Regions from separate parts of the Homo sapiens genome. Here all the other regions are reported to be linked to region 4. Evidence: microRNA targets listed by miRTarBase, many of them from high-throughput screens and not tested one by one. Region 4 holds a microRNA gene; each other region holds the end of a gene's coding sequence.
The links. Region 4 holds the annotated microRNA hsa-miR-4500 (UGAGGUAGUAGUUUCUU, at 1,881-1,897, shown strand). A microRNA usually pairs through its seed, bases 2 to 8, with sites in the 3' UTR of a target mRNA and lowers its output. Matches are read on the target gene's strand: a 7mer-m8 pairs with bases 2 to 8, a 7mer-A1 pairs with bases 2 to 7 and ends in A, and an 8mer does both.

Region 1: the mRNA of AREL1 is a reported target of hsa-miR-4500. Seed matches in the 3' UTR shown: 7mer-A1 at 577-583.
Region 2: miRTarBase lists CRX as a target of hsa-miR-4500. Seed matches in the 3' UTR shown: 7mer-m8 at 1,975-1,981.
Region 3: the mRNA of AK4 is a reported target of hsa-miR-4500. The part of its 3' UTR that is shown has no 7-base or 8-base seed match.
Region 5: the mRNA of PDZD8 is a reported target of hsa-miR-4500. The part of its 3' UTR that is shown has no 7-base or 8-base seed match.
Region 6: miRTarBase lists CHTOP as a target of hsa-miR-4500. Seed matches in the 3' UTR shown: 7mer-m8 at 690-696.

Annotation. Positions count from the first base shown.
Region 1 is chr14:74,661,031-74,664,135 of GRCh38, reverse strand. It overlaps AREL1 (apoptosis resistant E3 ubiquitin protein ligase 1), which reads left to right. Exons shown (of 20, transcript NM_001039479.2): 19 at 62-237; 20 at 314-2,880. The coding sequence ends at 416. Among named protein-coding and RNA genes, the nearest start is that of LTBP2, 50 kb to the right of the region's middle.
Region 2 is chr19:47,839,377-47,842,466 of GRCh38, reverse strand. It overlaps CRX (cone-rod homeobox), which reads right to left. Exons shown (of 4, transcript NM_000554.6): 4 at 1-3,090. The coding sequence ends at 2,500. Among named protein-coding and RNA genes, the nearest start is that of TPRX2, 18 kb to the left of the region's middle. RefSeq lists an enhancer at 2,387-2,912.
Region 3 is chr1:65,225,724-65,228,828 of GRCh38, reverse strand. AK4 (adenylate kinase 4) reads right to left here. Exons shown (of 5, transcript NM_013410.4): 5 at 1-2,766. The coding sequence ends at 2,652. Among named protein-coding and RNA genes, the nearest start is that of AK4, 79 kb to the right of the region's middle.
Region 4 is chr13:87,617,463-87,620,567 of GRCh38, reverse strand. MIR4500 (microRNA 4500) reads left to right here and starts at 1,828; the gene lies at 1,828-1,903. All of the region lies in intron 1 of LOC124900338 (formin-like protein 5), which reads left to right. The region is part of intron 1 of MIR4500HG (MIR4500 host gene); the gene reads left to right.
Region 5 is chr10:117,280,640-117,283,741 of GRCh38, forward strand. PDZD8 (PDZ domain containing 8) reads right to left here. Exons shown (of 5, transcript NM_173791.5): 5 at 1-3,102. The coding sequence ends at 2,629. Among named protein-coding and RNA genes, the nearest start is that of SLC18A2-AS1, 40 kb to the left of the region's middle.
Region 6 is chr1:153,644,893-153,647,997 of GRCh38, forward strand. It overlaps CHTOP (chromatin target of PRMT1), which reads left to right. Exons shown (of 6, transcript NM_015607.4): 6 at 172-1,414. The coding sequence ends at 377. Among named protein-coding and RNA genes, the nearest start is that of SNAPIN, 12 kb to the right of the region's middle.

The DNA of each region.
Region 1 (3,105 bases), not on the chromosome of region 4:
CAGGGATCTAATCCTAGCTTGTTTACTGTGTGTGATCCCAGCCTTGTGCTCTCCCTGCCAGGTCATGAGGTGGTTTTGGACTGTGGTTTCCAGTCTGACCCAGGAGGAGTTGGCTCGGCTACTTCAGTTCACAACAGGCTCCTCTCAGCTACCACCTGGAGGCTTTGCCGCCCTCTGTCCCTCATTTCAGATTATTGCCGCTCCGACCCATAGCACGCTGCCTACTGCACACACATGGTAGGTATCTGCCCGCCTGATGCATGCCCAGTGTTTTTGGTGGTATGAGTTAATCACTTCTCCCTTGCCCTTCCAGTTTTAACCAGCTGTGCCTCCCTACATATGACTCCTATGAAGAGGTGCACAGGATGCTGCAGCTGGCCATCAGCGAGGGTTGCGAGGGCTTTGGCATGCTCTGACCACTCTCCTGTCATCCAGTTGGCTCCCATGCTCTCTGGAGCTTCTGGGCGCAAGTTACAGACATCATAACCACTGATCCTAACACACATAACCATCAGCCAGAAGATGCCGCATGCTCCCCTGTGTCTGGAGGATTTTGTCACCTACAAGCCTTGTCTTTACCTCACCTGCTCCCTGCCCATATCTACCACAGGCCACTTTGGCATGGTATGTAAGCTGAGCTCTTCATTCTGTCATGAGAAGAGGACCATGCTGCTATCATTTATTTGGTCCTTTGAAGATCTCAGTAGCTGAGGGAGATGGCACACGGGGCTCAGCCCTGTTGGGAAACTGGTGTGGAGACCCTTAAATCCACACTGTGCTCCAAAACTCCCTCTGCTGATACTCCTTGGAGACACCCTCTTTGGCCCTCACTACTTGACCAGACTGGTACTTGAGTCCTTCTCATGGGTGGGGTGATTGCCTCTTCTCATCAGGAGCCAGGAGAGAGGGGGACAGATAGGAGGTGGCCCATAGGAGCAGTCCCGCTGCACAATGGTAGGCATAGGCCATGGCACTGGACTGCCTCTAAGGACTGCTAAAAAGAATATTTTTTTGTGGTGTCAGAACTGGAAAAAGCACTTTCCCTTCGGGCATTTCTGGAAATGATTATTAATCCACAAAGAAGAACTCTGTAAGCTTTTTCTTGAATTGTAGCCAGTGAGAAAAGCAGATAGACTGAAGAATATGAAGGATAGCTGAGCTGTAGCCTCCAGAGTGGGGCATGCCTAGGCATATGGCTGGCTTGGAGACTACTGATGCTTTTCCCTGAGTTTGTTATTGGCACTGAAGTATGGCCGGCTTGGGCCACTGACTTCCCCATTATGTAGTCTGCTAAAAGCTGGGGATCCTTTAGCATTCTACTGAAGAAAATTTTGTAGCAAAAGATTAGAACAGTAAGAATAGTATGCCAGCAATCCCTGATTCTCTCTCTGCTTGGTGTTCTCTGGCAGCACTAAGACAAAGGAACAGGGACTAGGAGTTTACGTGCTTATCACAGGTCCTTGGCGTCAGGACACTAGGGATGAACATGGAGGTGATATGTTACACAGTAAACACCTGCCAACCCCTGTACTCCCCTTTGCTCCATCAGTTATCAGGAAGGAGAACTAAGGAGGGAGGAAGCTTATTAGGTTCACTGTTGAATGATGATTGAAGAGTACCTGCTGCTGTATCTTGGAAGATGACAACATCCTTTTTCATTACTGTTTGATTGAAAATAATTTCAAGATTCAAAATCTCATTGACTTCCCAAATTTGTGTTTTTAAGAAGGCTTTGCTGCAAGCTACCATTCCCAATGGGGCAGTCAACTCTGAGAATATTACAAGCCATCTTTATTGCCAAAACCAGCAAGTACACAGAGTCCTGAAACAAGGCAGGACTTTGGCAATGCCTTGGCCTCCTGGAAGCATGTCTGAGCCCTCCTGTTCGCAGGGATCATGAGGAACAAGCCCTCCTGAGCTGCTACAGTTCCTGCCTGACCTCAGTCTTTCGCAGTCATCATTTGTCCTTTCTTGGCACATGGGTGCTGACCTCACTCATCCTTGGGGTCCGGGATCCAGCATCAGGGTCTCTATACCCCAGGATCCTCCATGCCACATGGTCACTGCTCTCCTCAGGGACCAGGACAAGGTGCTGCTGCTTGCCCAAATGTTTTCCCATGGGATATGTACCGGAAGGTTTATCACCACCCTGGGAAACATAATGCTGCCCCTTGGGCCCAGAAAGGGGTTTCCAGCTGGGGGCACGTGGACTGGTTCTGCTGTTTTTGGCAGTCGCTTTTCTGAATTCTCCCCTCCGGCAGCCTTCCAGAGACTGATCCTGGAGATTGAGTTGATTGTCTTGGCTAGACCTGTCATTTTAAGCTCTAGTCATAGCACTTTTTCAGAGCATCTTAGGCACCATTGCAACCCAACCAGGGAAGCTGCATCCCTGTGGTGGTCCTTAGGCACCAGTCTTTGTTAAACAAAACCCTTTGGCACTATTGTGGTTTTCTATTCTCTGTCTGAACTCTATTCAAAAGTATCTTTGCTCTCTTGGGCCTTTTCTTTTACTGTTTTGTTTTTTTTTTTTCTAATCCTGCTTTCATACTAGCCAGTGTGGGGAAAAGGTACAATATGTCAAAGAGATGAGAGAGTGTTATTTCTTGGGCAATTTTCTATTAGTGTTTCTTATTTTGGCCAGTTCTTTTATTTATGTCCTTGTGACCCAGGTACTTGGGGGGCCAGCTACCCTTCTGGCCTTTTAGCGTCTTTGAAGGAGACCAGACATGAGTGAATACCTAGGAGAGTGTCAGCATGTTTCTGGAAAATTGGCAGAGACCAAGCCCTGCTGCAGATTCGTCAGGCCAGGTGAAAGGGCCAGGCAGTTGCAGCTGATGATGTAAATATTTTGTACAGTAGATAAATAAATGTTTAAAAGAACTAAGGAGTGAGTGGCTGCTTTAAATGGAGATTCATGGCTTGACTGGAAGGTGGGGAAGGAAAAGATTTGGAAATGATTTTGCATTTCCCCAGGAATTCCTCCTGAAGTGGTCGGCTCGGGGTAGAGTGTACACCTGGAGTCCTGGCCTGTCCCACTCTTGCCCTTTCACCCTTCCCTGATTGCTGTCCATGGTGCCAGGCAGGGCCACTGTCTCAGCCATGGGG
Region 2 (3,090 bases), not on the chromosome of region 4:
GGGATTACAGGCGCGTGCCACCATGCCCGGCTAATTTTTGTATTATTAGTAGAGACAGGGTTTCACCATGTTGGCCAGGCTGGTCTCGAACTCCTGACCTCAGGTGATCCACCCGCCTCGGCCTCCCAAAGTGCTGGGATTACAGGCGTGAGCCACCGCACCCGGCCCACTCCTGGGCTTAATGTCCCAGAACCCAGCATGACTCAGGCCTATGAGAGATGAACACGTTTTATGTTGAATAAAAACCTCTTTGTGGGCTCTAGAGATCAGGGTGTACCCCTCAGGGGGTCTAGGCTGTGTGCACCTCTTCTGGTCTAGTGCTGGAAACGTCATCTGATACCTCCCGGCCTCTCTTCACATCTCGCCTTTCTCCTGACCCTGGCTGCTGCTGACGGTGTGTACCAACTCGTAAGCATATATTGTGCCCTATCTCTTCCCAACTCTTAGTTCAGTGACCTCCGGTTGCTAGCTTGAAGTCAGCCGTGGTGGGAGTATTTACACCACGGAAACTGACAAACACTCCACAACCAACCTTTTCCTCTTCCTTGGAGAGCCCATTGTTAGACCTCTGCCAGCACACCACTGTCTTCCTGCCCTACTTTTTTTTTTACACCTTGCCTTGTGAACTCCACCAATGAAGGGCTCTTGGAACCCGCCTCCCCACCCAAAAATGAAAGGAGAACTCGGACTGAGAAGGCAGGGACCCAGCACCCAACTTCTGAGCATCAAATGACCTCAATCCGTCTTCAGGTTCTCACAAGTGCTTGCCAGTGTCACCATAAGTAAGATTCTATTTCAAGAAATAATGGTGCCACCCCAGGAAAATGTCCTCAAGCCAAGCTCTATTTTCCAATCCCACCATCAAAACTGAAAACCAAAAAAAAAAAAAAAAAAATCTAAAAAAGGGAATGTATGTTTGAAATGTAGGGCTGCCTCCTCCAAATCTATTTCCCCCTCTTCCTATCTCTTGTTTATTTACAGATGGGAGTCTGTCTAGCTGCTGCTTCTCTGTGAAATAGCCACAACTATAGGTGGTACGTCCCAAGCAGCTACCCCAGTTCCACCAGTGTCTCACCTTTAGAAAATCCTAAAACAAAAGAAAAAAGGAGTAGAGATGGAACAGGCAAGGTGCCTTTCATTTCCCTACCAAATACACACATTCCCAATGTGCTAATGAGCGAATGAGTGATAAAATGTCTTTAAAAAGAAACTAAGAAGAAAAAGTACATATATGTATAGCTACATATATGAATGTAGATCTTTGTCTCTCAAACGGTCCCCTAAACCTACCATGTAAGCCTGACATTTGTGAAGTCTGTGAAATTCCCAGATAATTTATTTTTAATGTAACCACATCATTGGCCTAAGGTTTCCCGACGGGGCTTCTTAAAGTCTGTCTTTGGAATTTCTAGAAAGGTCCCTAACCATATGCTAAAGAAGTGTCCACGTGTAGGGCCAGGCACAATGGCTCATGCCTGTAATCCCAGCACTTTGGGAGGCCGAGGCAGGCGGATCACTTGAGGTCAGGGGTTCCAGACCAGCCTGGCCAACATGGTAAAACCCTGTCTCTACTAATAATAGAAAAATTAGCCGGGCATGATGGAGCACACCTGTAATCCCAGCTAATTGGGAGATTGAGGCAGGAGCAACGCTTCAACCCGGGAGGTGGAGGTTGCAGTCAGTGAGCTGAGATCACACCACTGCACTCCAGCCTAAGCAAAAGAGTGAGACTCCGTCTCAATTAAAAAAAAAAAAAAAAAAAAGGGCCGGGCGCGGTGGCTCACGCCTGTAATCCTAGCACTTTGGGAGGCCGAGGCGGGCGGATCACGAGGTCAGGAGATCGAGACCATCCTGGCTAACACGGTGAAACCCCGTCTCTACTAAAAATACAAAAAAAATTAGCCGGGCCTGGTGGTGGGCATCTGTAGTCCCAGCTACTCGGGAGGCTGAGGCAGGAGAATGGCGTGAACCCGGGAGGTAGAGCTTGCAGTGAGCTGAGATCGTGCCACTGCACTCCAGCCTGGGCGACAGAGCTAGACTGTGTCTGCAAAACAAAAACAAAACAAAAAAAAAAATTCTGTCCACGTGGAAAGTTAAGTTATCAAGCCCCCCTACCTGCTTGTTCAAGGGCACGGTGATTCTGACCTAAACATGACCCCAAATCAACTGCAAGTTTGGTTTGACTTCTTCTTGGAGCAAGTTCTCAGCACCACTTTCTGAAGCCTGGAGCTCGTGGTGTACTTCAGCGGTCACAATCGTGCCAGACGGTGTTAGGGTTGAGAGAATCACTAGGACCTGTGAGCTGTCCCAGGAGAGGGAGGAGCCTCTCCCTGTGGAGGAAAGGGGTGGTCTCTGTAAGCTGAACACCGAGCTGTCAGAAGGACAGCTGGTTCGGGTTGCTTTCTCAGGAATGCCATCCCGGGATCTAAACTGCAGGGAAGCAGATTCAGAAGAGAAAGGGTCCCGAGGCCCGATGGAGAGAGATGGAGACTGCGTCCTCTACAAGATCTGAAACTTCCAGGCACTCTGATCCTTGTAGTCCAGAGGGTCCATGGGATTGTAGGTGAATTTCCAGGTGCCCGTGGGGTCCTTGAATTCCAAGCTATCCACGGGGCTGTAGGCGCCATAGCTCTGGCCTGATAGGGAGGTGGGGGACTGGGCCAGGGAAGGTCCCACGGAGGGGCCAGAGAGGGGGCTAAGAGCCGGGCCCCCTAGCTGGGGCACCATGGGAGAAAGGTAGGGGTCTAGGCCGCTGAAATAGGAGCTCGGAGACCCATAGGCGGAGGGGGAAGAGCAGAAAGCGGAGGCCGGGGCGTAGGTCATGGCATAGGGGGCGGAGGTCAGAGACGGCCCTGAGGCCACCAGCCCAGCCCGCTGCGCCTCAGGCAAAGGGGACTCTGAGGCTGGGCTCCAGATGGACACAGTGGCCACTGCCGTGGTTGGGGAGCCTGAGGGGCCGGGCAGAGGGGGACTGTAGGAATCTGAGATGCCCAGAGGGTCTGGACACACATCTGTGGAGGGTCTTGGGGACGTGCCCGCCTTCCTCTTGGCAGGCCGGGCCTTGGCCTGGCCCCCTGGGGGCTGCTGCTG
Region 3 (3,105 bases), not on the chromosome of region 4:
AGAATGACAGAATGCGAGGTCAGGTTGGCATCTTAGAAACCATCTGAACCACTCTCTTTGCTTAAAGGTGAAGGAACGGTCATGTGTGGCAATAGAAAAAAAAAAAACAAAACAAGAAAAGATGTCCCTTTAATTTTACTTTTGTCAAAACATTTTCAAGATTACTTTAATTTTTACAATATCATTTAAGGGAAAACTAGTGAGTTTGTTGAAGAAAACAAGAAACAGATTTTTTTAAAGCCATTGACCACGAAATAAGCATTATGTTTCAAAGACCATGAAAAAGTTATTTGTCTCTTTTTGGTCTCAACTAGCGAGGGAGGTGAGACCAAACTGCTCAACCGCTGGACAATCTCAGCAAACACACCCACTGTTGAGACTTATTGAGTGACTCAATGTTGGCTAGAATTGTCCATTTAGCTGGAGGGGAAGAGGGAGGGAAGGATGGATGGAGGAGTGAAGTATGGAAGCAGGGATCAGGCCACTTCCCGTACCTCTCCCAAACTCCAAAGGCAATGATCACATTGGAGGGTCAGCTAAACACAAAGGGAAGTGAAGAAAGAAGTTTGAAGATTTTCCTGTTTCCAAAAATCACATACTTTCCTCTTTTGAGTATTCTATAGAATAACTCTCTACATTTCCTAGTTTGTGGAAATTTTCTCTACGGCATAACTACTCTAAATTGTGCAATTTTCCTCATATCAGACTTATTTTTCTCTATACCTGGTTCCCTAGCAAACCTGAGCTTTATTTATATATCTGATATGCACCCCATCTCCACAGCTGGCATTCAATTGCAACTCTAAATTCTAAAGTGCTCAGAGTCAATATAATGCACTGACGATTCAGACCTGACTGGGCATTTTCACTGCATAAATCTAAAAAGTAAACAATCTCATTATGTTTGAGAGGATGGATGGGGAGAAAACTGATCTATATTTCCACTAAGGTAGCCAAGAAATATTCACATGAAGGGACAATGGGAGAGGAGCTGGCAAGAGTTTGGGCAGTACTTAGAAGGAAGATGCATTCCTTATCATATAGATTACATATGGCAGTGAATTGACAGAGGATTCACTGGGACATCTTCAGAAAGTAAGTAATGTGTTTCAACACCACTAAAGTGTTAAAATAGGCTTCTTTTCTTCTCGCCAGTATGAAAAGTTAGACAGGAGTCACTCCCAAGAATAGTAAAGGACACTCACTGGGGACAGTCATGATGGGTGAAGAAGGGATACATATTTTTAAGGCAGCAGGAATAAATTTCATCATCCTTCCCAGAAGACAGCAAGAATTATTCAAGGTGGCCACCAAGTCTGGAAACCAGGCAAATCTTTTAACAAATGGTTTATTGATATGTTATAATGAATGACAAAATATTAGTATCTAATTCTAGACTTTATGGCCACCCCATAGGATGAATCTTTGGAACAGAAAAAAAAAATAAAGAATTTGTTTTCTCATAATCATAAAGCTGTTATACTCAGTCCAGGCACAGCTAGTACAACATTCTGCTCAACCCCACAGGCTCCATTCCCTTTACCACATATTTATAATATGTTTGGGTCACTCATAGGAGTGAAACACTGTCAGCATCAATAGTTAGCAGCACTTTCAAAATACATTTTATTGTCCCGAATAGAAACCTTAACTATTCAATTAGTCCAGTAATTCCAAATGGTCTTATTACTTCTATACATAAGATATGATCTTACAACATTTATGTAGCTAAATACTTAACTTCCCATGCTTTTTGAGGATTCCCAAAAGACTTTAGGGGGTTCCCAAGACTTTCAGGGTTTTTTTTTTTTTTCACAATAAAAGAAAGGAACAGTGTCAATCCATAAAGTCAGACCAGCAGTTTAATAAGATCCTCTTCATAGCTCAGTTCTCAGTGCATACAGAGATTCAATATAGCCCCATCGCTCTCAGTTATTAGAATCTGAGAGGGATAAAAGCAATAACTATTGTTTAAAAGCCTAAGAGTGAAAACAGATGTCCAAAAAAAAAAAGAAAAAAAAAAGCCAAATTCTTTCATCCCAGGATGTCTGAAAAGGAGAGACTCTATGGAGCGTGGATGTAGAAAAGGAGTTATTCCTACCGGAAAAAAATGAACTGTGGACACAGTCACTCAAGACCAGAGAAACAACCACTATGAGTAAGTAGCTTCAATTTCACTGTTACCAGGAGGGCACACACCAGAAAGCCTGGGACAAAGCCTGGGCTAGAGCCCTCAGGATTCATTCTCAGGCTTCCTGGTGCTGTGGTTCAACAGCCTTTGTGGGGATGGGGAGAACCAGAGACTATCACCATCACATGTCAAAAATATTACCACAGCAACAGCTGTCAAAAACCAGCTGGAGCTGAAGTTACACACCATTTGAAATCCACACTGTACTTGCTTTCTTGTGATGGGCTTGAGACATGTGCAGAGACACCTTAAACATGTGTAGGTGACCAGCCTTTTGAAAGGCAGAGGAGGGCCTCTTCATGAACTCTTTCTACTCATTTGTTTTCCTATCAGTTCACCATTTCAACTAGAAAAGATGCTGCAAGCTACCTCAGCTAGCTTCTAATTTGGACACAGCACCAATACTACACACACTATTGAATGAATGACCACATCTTCCTGGTTCTTCCATTGGGCAGGGTCAATATGCTTCTTTGGACTGAATAGGTGTGATCTTGTTTGAGAAAAGTGTGTAAACGTAGGGCCAGATTTTGTTCGTCTCCGTTCCGGAAAATTGGTGGAGCACTCCTCGGCTCCTGAAAAACAAAGCCCAACATACAATGGCTTTTTAGGTTTCTTTTCCACGTATTAGTGCAGAAGATCCTAGATATAAAACAAGCATGATCTCATGGTCTATATCATATACCACACTAAGTGCTAAAACAGCCCCTTTCAAAGGTATCAACACCTCCACTGGGTGTACATAAATAAGGTCATAGCTTTTGCAATTCTGGTATGCTTGTCATGATGCCACCTTTTTTCTCCCCCTTTAAAACATATCAAAGAATAGCATTATAGGGGCCATTCCAAATGTGCCCCAATATATAATTTTCAAAAGCGAACCACTGAAAAGCTTTACTAAAACCTATATTACT
Region 4 (3,105 bases):
AGGAAACAATCACTTACACACACACACACACACACTCACATACACACGCACACTCACATGCACACATCTATACCATAAAATTTTATTATGAAATTATTGTAAGTTTATAAAAATATTTACCAATAGAATAATATTAAGTAACTCATGGATTTTTTATTAAAACTAATTTTGGTATTTTTTAAAGGACTAAAGATATTTTGGTACAGATTTCAGGGAAAATAGGATGCTAGCCCTTGAGAACATGCCGATCTTGCTCCTTGGCTAACTACACCATTCACCTTACTTTGGCTAGGGAGGCATTTGCAGAGCTCTCCTTCTGACATTTTTGTCTAGAGGAGGCGTTGTTGTCTCCCTTACTCTCAGAAGCTTCACGTGTGTTAAGGAAACTTTTTAAGTGTCTTTCCTTTTTGAAATGAGCAAGTGGTAGGTATATAGATACTTTATTATTTTTATCTTATTTATTCAAATATTTTATTTTCCTTCTATTCTATCTTTTTTACGATAGGCATGGACATTCTATTACACATTTGGAAAAATACAGAGTGTAATACACTCTATACCCAAGTCTATATGCAAAAGCTGTTTCTATTTTTCTATATTTGCATCACTAGGTATATGTTCTTTTTAAAGTAAATTATAGATACATTGGTACTTCATTCTAAATACTTCAAGCATATATCTCCAAAAATTAATATTCTCAAATTTTGCTGCAGTGCTATTATTACAGCTAAAATAATTGAGACAAATCACATAATATTACAAAATACCCACAAATTCTATATTTGAGCATATTCAGATATTCTAAAAGTGTATTTATAGCTGATTTGCTCACACCTGGAGTCAATCAAGAATCACACATTGTATTTGGTTGTGTTGGTTCTTAAATCTCTATTAATCTACAATAGACCCAACTATATTTTTCTTTACTTTTATGACATAGAAAGTCTATTGCCAGTGGTTGTCCATTTTCAGATTTGTAATATAGAATTGGTTTGTTTTCATTCTCTGAAGCATATTATATCATTACATTACACAACAACTTCCTGACTTTATTCAATAAGTACATACTGAATTATGAGTGTATGTCAGCCAGAGAACGTATAGCTATGACAGAAAAAAAAAAGAAAGATCTGTCTTTCTTTTTGCTCTAAATATTTTTTTCTCTTTCCTTTAGGATGCAACTGACTCACTTAAAATAGCTGTGTGGATATAGAACTTTTATCAACTACTATTTACTAAATTATATTGGTGTGTTTGTCCTCATCTTAGAATAGCATATCAATAGATGCTATAAAAACATAAGAGGTACGTTTGTAAAACATTGAATTCGGTTCCAAATATCTCAAAATTCTTCCCTAAAGAACACTTTTTGATCGAGATTAAGACATAGGAATCTAAGTTCATCAACCAAAGATGGGTGCCTGACTGCTCATCAACTAATTTTATATGACTCAAAGAATAGGAATTCAGAAGATCTGTGTCCAGCTTTGTCATGGGTAAATAAGGAAGGCACCCATAAATCTTATATAAGTCGTAGGAAGAAGTGTGGTTCTTTGCAGTGAACCATTTCCTGGAAGACACAAGACTGGGGGGATTTTTTAACCTTTGCTGTTTTCCAGGAGTACAGGTTTCTGGTAAAATTCAACATTGTCAGGAGCAGCCAGAGTGATAAGATAACTTATACACAAGACAATCCCTAATAACTTATACACAAGATGATCCCTAATGCAAATGGCGCCTGTGTCTGGAAGAAGCAGTGACACCTTCATAAAACTAAACTTTTGCCTTAATAATATGGTGCTTTCCAGTAGAGGCAATAGCAGAGCCCAGGAGAGAAAGTACTGCCCAGAAGCTAAAGTGTAGATCAAACGCATAATGGCTGAGGTAGTAGTTTCTTGAACTTATTTGTGAGCACATGCAAAAAGTCTCCTGAGTTAAAAACCACAACCACAACAACAACAATGACAACAACAACAACAACAGGGAGGACATTTGCAAAAGTACAGAGTCTCTGCAAGCTTCTGAAAACAAGAGCCAGTAAAAAATGTGATGTAGTAATGTTATTACCACACATGTGAATTCGTTTTTACGTAGTTTTGATGACTTGTGGAAGTTTAGGTTACAGTCACATAGAAAAGTATTTACCCCTTACCTGAAGCACCCTGAGTTTGAGATCAAGAAAAAAAAGATACTAAATGTTTCATCTTGGCATGGCTTGAGGCATAATAGTAAGATAGATATAATAGTATCCATTAATGGCAGAATTCCATCATTTTATAGATATGACTGTCTATGTTATGGTATGTTTTGTAATAAACATGTTTTGTTTTAGAAAAGGAAAATGTCAGAAATATTTGAGATGTCTGAAAGAGTGAAGTTTTCCTAGTGCTGTGAGGAGATTACTAAGAAAAAATGGCATGTACTAATTTTATTTGATTAAAATAAGAACTCAATAATAGACGACAAGCTTCAGGCTAGTTTTAGGAACAATAGTTCTTTCTTTGTCTTTGTTTTGTTTAGTTTTGAAGACAGGGTCTCACTCTGTTGCCCAGGCTACAGTGCAGTGGCACAATCGTGGCTCACTGCAGCCCAGCCTTGGCCTCCTAAGCTCAAGTGATCCTCCCAACACAGCCTCCCATGTTGCTGGGACTACAGGCACACATCACTACTCCTGACTGATTTTTTTTCTTTTTTTAATGTTTGTAAAGACAGGGTTTCACCATTTTGCCCAGGCTGATCTAAAACTCCTGAGCTCAAGTGATCCTTCTGCCTCAGCCTCCTAAAATGGTGGGATTATGAATAAGAGTCACCATGCCCAGATGAGACTTAACTTTCTAAGTAAATTAGACATAATTAACAATCAGTAATATAAACATTTTAAGCCTCCATTTGTAACCAGGTCCTTTCAGCATTTTGACAGAAGTTCTGTATCTTCCACTTCAATACTTAAATTTACTTTTCCTCAGGCACCTGCATTCAACATTAATTTTAAAAAGATCCTGTCAAGTACTACTCTTGAGCTTTTGTTTAATTATTCTTATTACAATACCTCCAGAAACTACCATGAAGGAATTTACATAATTGATATTCATACATTGAAAATAA
Region 5 (3,102 bases), not on the chromosome of region 4:
ACTTGCACTAAAGTACAACTATGATGTCTCTACTGCCTCTCCCAGTGAAATATAAAAATATTGCACTACATTACAGATATAGTTTACAAATGTCATTAGCAGCATTACTGAGCTTTCTATAATTGTGGTCTACAGAGTTAAATACTTTTAAAACATGAGTAGATTCTTATAAAACCAAAGTTTTGCATTATTTCAACAGCTCTTTCAAATGCATCAGTTTCAGCAACATGCTTGGGTATCATGAAAACTTCCATGGTTTAATCAATAAACACCAGCTACTTACAAGTAGTCCACCTTCCAGGTTATCAATGGTAAGTTATTTTTTATAAAGTGGTTACACACTGAGCAGATTGCCTCAAGTGTAAGTTATGGAACAATACTTTAGCTTTCAGGGAATTTGGTGTGTAAATTCTTCTATAGCAGTGTTCTTTTAAAATAAGATCACGTGGCCGGGCGTGGTGGCTCACGCCTGTAATCCCAGCACTTTGGGAGGCCGAGGCAGGTGGATCACGAGGTCAGGAGATCGAGACCATCCTGGCTAACATGGTGAAACCCCGTCTCTACTAAAAATACAAAAAATTAGCCGCGCCTGTACTCCCAGCTACTCCGGAGGCTGAGGCAGGAGAATGGCGTGAACCTGGGAGGCGGAGCTTGCAGTGAGCCGAGATCATGCCACTGCACTCCAGCCTGGGAGACAGCGAGACTCTGTCTCAAAAAAAAAAAAAAAAAAAAAAAAAAAAAAAAAAAAAAAAGACATCACGCTTAAATAAGTAATGAAGTATACTGAGATGTTTTTGTTATAAACTTGGCTAAGAAAGGTATTTAGTACCTGAAATTTTCGCTTACTAAAGTAACAAAAGGCATGAGACTTGGCTATTGATTTTTAAAGTGGAATAACTTTTCTCCCCTCAAAAATGTCTTTCTTACTCATATAAATAATGCCTTTTACTTGTATATCTTTTTACTGTTCAAAGCACTTTTGCAGTTATGCTATTGTTTCCCTCACAACAATACTGTGAGGGAGGTAAAGTATTATTATTCCCATTTTAGAGATGGGTCCTTTTGTAACTGCCTATGCTTACACAGTTCATTAATGGAAGGGCTTGAACTTAAACTCTTTTATGGAGTCCTGGAGTCTAGACCTGGGCCCCAGTCCTTAATATTACACCATGCTTTTTCCTGCCAGCAATAAAAGCTGCTCCATCTAGTTTTAAACTCATGTCAGTTTCACTATATAGCAATCATCATAGCAGTTACCTACAAAGGGACAAACATATACTTGTCTATTTTATAGGTATATAACAGACCGAAACCATTAAGGTACCCCAACAACAGTCGAGCTTACTTGTTTTCCCTCAGTCAAATGTTACTGGGACCCGTAAAATGGACCCAGTGTGAGTATATCTTCATTTTCAGAGAACTGGTCCCAATTCCTATGTATGAATACTATTTTTGTCATTCTTTTCTTAATGAATACTCACTACAGAAGTATTCAGAATGATCACCATTCCTTTACAACTGTAAGACGCCAAAGCAAAAAGTATATTTTGCATGATTCCTTTCCTTCACAGAATACTCCTACATGAAAATGTTTTTTCTAAAACAAAACCAGCCCAAACTAGTTATCAACACAGTCATTTTAAAAAGAGTCCTCCAAAACTTTAAATACCCTTTCACATGCTTTATTTCCTATGGGAGAACTGATGAGGAAAATTATCATAAATGTTTAAACTTTTAATTATAAAATTTAAATTTCCATTTAAAAGGAAAGCATCAATATTTTAAAAGATTATATTTCAAAATGCTATGTTACTGTTTTTCAGTAATTAAGTCTTGTTATCCTCTCTACAAAATTCTTGACCAACTGCAATCTACATTTATTTCCTATTACATTGTCTTTCAATGTAAGCTCTTCAAATTAATCACCATATTTTTACCATACAGCTGCACAAAAGCTTTAGAAAAAAATTTCACAGAAGCATCGAAAGCAAGCAATATATGTAAAAAATTTTTTTTTACTAAATCAGCATAACAGACTAAAGCTGCAGCATCTGCTTTCATGTTACATTTGGCAAAAACAAAACAAAAAGCACCCCCAAACCCCCAAAATAACAAAAATCTCAAGCAAGTAGAGACGATAAACTTCATAACACAAAAGAAAGATTCAAAACCTGTTCCCTCAGTGATTGCTGTTGTCAGTTTGGGCATGCAGCAAATTTGTTATAACCATGATGGAAATGAAAATATTTTAAGAATCTAGACAGTATTCTATTTAACACTAATTCAAAAACCAAGAGGAAGAAAAATAACACAAGGGGACACCATACATACATAAACATGAAAAGCTAGCTTACATAATTACATAATTAGAAAAGTTAAATAATTTAGTAAAAATAAATTCCCAGTATAAACCCAAAAAAGCATAGCTATAAATGCAATCCAAAACAACCAATTAGTAAGCTGGTCATGTTTTTACTGGAAAACAACCTTTCTCATTTTTGTTCTTACACAAGCAAGTAACTGGAGAAGCAGGCCAGAGTGCATACGAGGATTTAAACATGGTTGTATCTGTGGTACTTTAGATGCAACTTTACCCTGTTCATTTGAAAGCTTAAATAGACCTGTCTGCTACACAGACTCGGATGGGCCAAATAAGTCATCTGATATGCTGCTGAATGGCTGAGAGTCTATTAGTTGGCTTATTTCATTATCAAGGTCTTCTTCTGTATCATCTGTGTACTTGCTTATTTTTTTGGAGTGCTGGTCTAAAGACAGACTTTCTAAAGTTTCTATATCTTCAATGCCTGCTCTGTAGTGAATCATAAGAAGTGTTAGAGCTTGTAGCCTTTCACCTGATTTAGCTAAGGCAGCAGAAAGAAGTGATTTTTTCCTTGTATCAGTTGTCTCTTTTTCTTCTCTAACAAGGGAATTATTGTGTTCCAACTCCTGATCAATTTCATTCTGTAGCTTATCCAACATGAACTCTAGTTTCTGGATCCTTTCCTCTGTAGGCAAGCCCCTGTACAGATCACGACCAATTTCTTTAACTGCAATGAAAACACTGTCATCCAGACCACCCTCTTTTCTCACTAACTTTATTCC
Region 6 (3,105 bases), not on the chromosome of region 4:
CATGTGTTGCTTTCTACCCATTGTGTTTCCTTTTTTTCCAGATTTCTCCTCTTTGCCCTGCCCTTCAGCTTTTCTCAGCTAGGCCCCACTGCTCTAAGGGGCATTTACTACAGCACCTATTAAACTTACTTGTAACTGTCTCTTTTTTTTTTTTTTTCCCCTTTGGGCCAGGTCGGGGTATGATAGGTCGGGGAAGAGGGGGCTTTGGAGGCCGAGGCCGAGGCCGTGGACGAGGGAGAGGTGCCCTTGCTCGCCCTGTATTGACCAAGGAGCAGCTGGACAACCAATTGGATGCATATATGTCGAAAACAAAAGGACACCTGGATGCTGAGTTGGATGCCTACATGGCGCAGACAGATCCCGAAACCAATGATTGAAGCCTGCCCATCCTCCCATGAGAGACTCTTGTTAGTCAACACATCTGTAAATAACCTTGAGATAACAGATGAGAAGAAATCTGATTGATGCTGGATGGACCTATCACAATAGGCTGTGGACTTACTTGCCACCAGCTTGTGCATTTAGTGTGTTCCTTTTACTTTTTGATACTGTGTTGTATGAAACCCTTTTGTCCTTTGATTTGGTTTTTTGTTTTTGTTTTTTTAGGGGGGAGGGGGGGTTTCCCCTCCTTTGCCCAGACTTCTCTTTGAACACAAATGCATTAGCCTTGTGGCTAGAACACCCTCTTCCTACCTCTGTCTCCCCTCACTTGTCATATGCTCTGACATGCTAACATTTCTTTTGTTCATCCCTGTTGCCCCCACAGAAACATCCCAGAAAAACCGGTCAGTGTTCCTTCCTCCCTGATCCTTAGGTTTCTGAAATAGGGTTCTGTTACATCCTCTTCGATAGCCTGTTTAAAATGTTTAGAAGGTCTGGAGCTCAAAAATGCGTTCTTCCACATTGATAATTTAGTAAACTGAGAACATTGACATCACTACAGGGCAGCATAAGAGGTTGCTTACATGTGGTAGCAGCTCTGGTTTGATTCAAGTTGCTACCATGTACATTGACAGCACATATACCATAACCAGCGTGTTGGGTTGAATTGCACTTTCTACCTTTGTATGAGATTTACAGACTTTCCTTCTGGGTTTGTATCATGACCAGAGGGGTACTATAGGGTTGGTTTATACTGCAATATAGAGGATCAGAAGCCATTTGATTTGGTAGGTGTGTCAGAAGGGAGAATGATGGCAGACGAACTGCTGGAAGAGGTCAGAAGATAGCCATGCTAAAATGCAATTATATCCTCATGTTTATCCCAAACTAATCTTGGACTTTTCCACTCATTAGCTTTGTTTTGCCCTTGTTTCCCTTGAAGGTTTAAGTTCAACCATATTCTGTCAACTGTTCAGTTTCAGTGGAATCTTGTATTTCTGGTTCATTATAACAAACTGTTCGCTTAAATCCACCCAGGACTCTCTTTATTTGAGGTGCCTCAAAATGCCATGGCTACTTTAATGATGTTTTTTTTTTTTTTTCTTGTGACCGAGTCTCGCTCCTGTCACCAGGCTGGAGTGCAGTGGCGCGATCTTGGCTCTGCAACCTCCAACTCTCTGGTTCAAGCGATTCTCCTGCCTCAGCCTCCCGGGTGGCTGTGACTACAGACATGTGCCACCACACCCAGCTAATTTTTGTATTTTTAGTAGAGATGGGGTTTCACCATGTTGGCCAGGATGGTCTTGATCTCTTGACTTGGTGATCCACCCGCTTCAGCCTCCCAAAATGCAGGGATTACAGGCGTGACCCACTTTCAGCCTCCCAAAGTGCAGGGATTACAGGCGTGACCCACTGCACCCAGCCACTTTAATGATGTCTTGATATACCCCTTGTATGGTTGAGAGTTTCTTTCTTCTTACTTGTGTTAAAATTCTGGAGAGCCTGTGGCTTTGAGCAGAAAGTGAAGAATTTGACTTCCTCTGAGCTCTGCAGAAATAACACCACGCCCACAAAAACTCAAGGAAGATTGTCTTGGGCAACATTCTGGGCCCTTGGGCCCTGGCACATATTTCCCTTTTTCCCTATGTTGAGAGCTGAAGAGAAAAGAACCTAGTAGCGCCCAGCCAAGCCAGTTGTCATTGGGCTGCCTTTCACCCTAAACTGCCAGGAGGTTGTACTTACTGGGGGCTGGGAAGGAAATTTTGGTCAGGACAACCCAAACTTGAATCCTGTGATGTGGGGTGTCTGTAGGTCCCAAGGGAGATGGGCAGTGGGGGTCTAGCAGAAGGCTACAGGTTGGACGGTGACTGCAGAACTGAATCCCCAGTTCAGCTCCTTCTGCCTTTTCCAGTGCTAAAGCATGAGGACTTCCCCTCCCAGCCAACCTCCCCAACAACCCAAACAAGTGCAAAATGCCAGGCTCCCTCCTACCCCAGAGGAGACTGATGCTTAAGAGTTCTCTATAAAGGAGGTGACTGCCGTAGCCTAGGCTTCCTTCCTTCTACCTCCATGTCCTTCCTACTTCATTGAAAGAATTTATCCCCAAATCGCTTATGTGGGGCACAGGGAACTCTCCTATCAGCCAAGGGTCCTCCAGCCCCACCTACTGCTCACTACAGTTCCCAGGGTCTCCTGAGGCCTGTGTCCCTGTCATCCTCAGTCACTGGTCGTGTGGGACAAGGTGAGTAAACCTGACCTCCTCTGGGTCAGCCTTTCATTCAGCTGCCATGTGCTGAGGGCTTGCCATACCAACACAAGGCATCCTTTGTAAGGGTAACATTAGGAGCATAGGGAAGAGGTTGATGAGCTGGATCTTTTAAGACAAGGGAAAGTAGAGAAAATACACCAAGCAGAGGGAACCAAGTGTAAAGGTACAGTGCTAAAAGAACACCTGAGGCTGGGCACAGTGGCTTACGCCTGTAATCCCAGCACTTTGGGAGGCCGAGGCGGGTAGATCACCTGAGGTCGGGAGTTTGAGACCAGCCTGACCAACATGGAGAAACCCCGTATCTACTAAAAATATGAAATAAGCTGGGCGTGGTGGCACATGCCTGTAATCCCAGCTACTCGGGAGGCTGAGACAGAAGAATCACTTGAACCCGGGAGGCGGAGGTTGCAGTGAGCCGAGATGGCGCCATTGCACTCCAGCCTGGGCAACAAGAG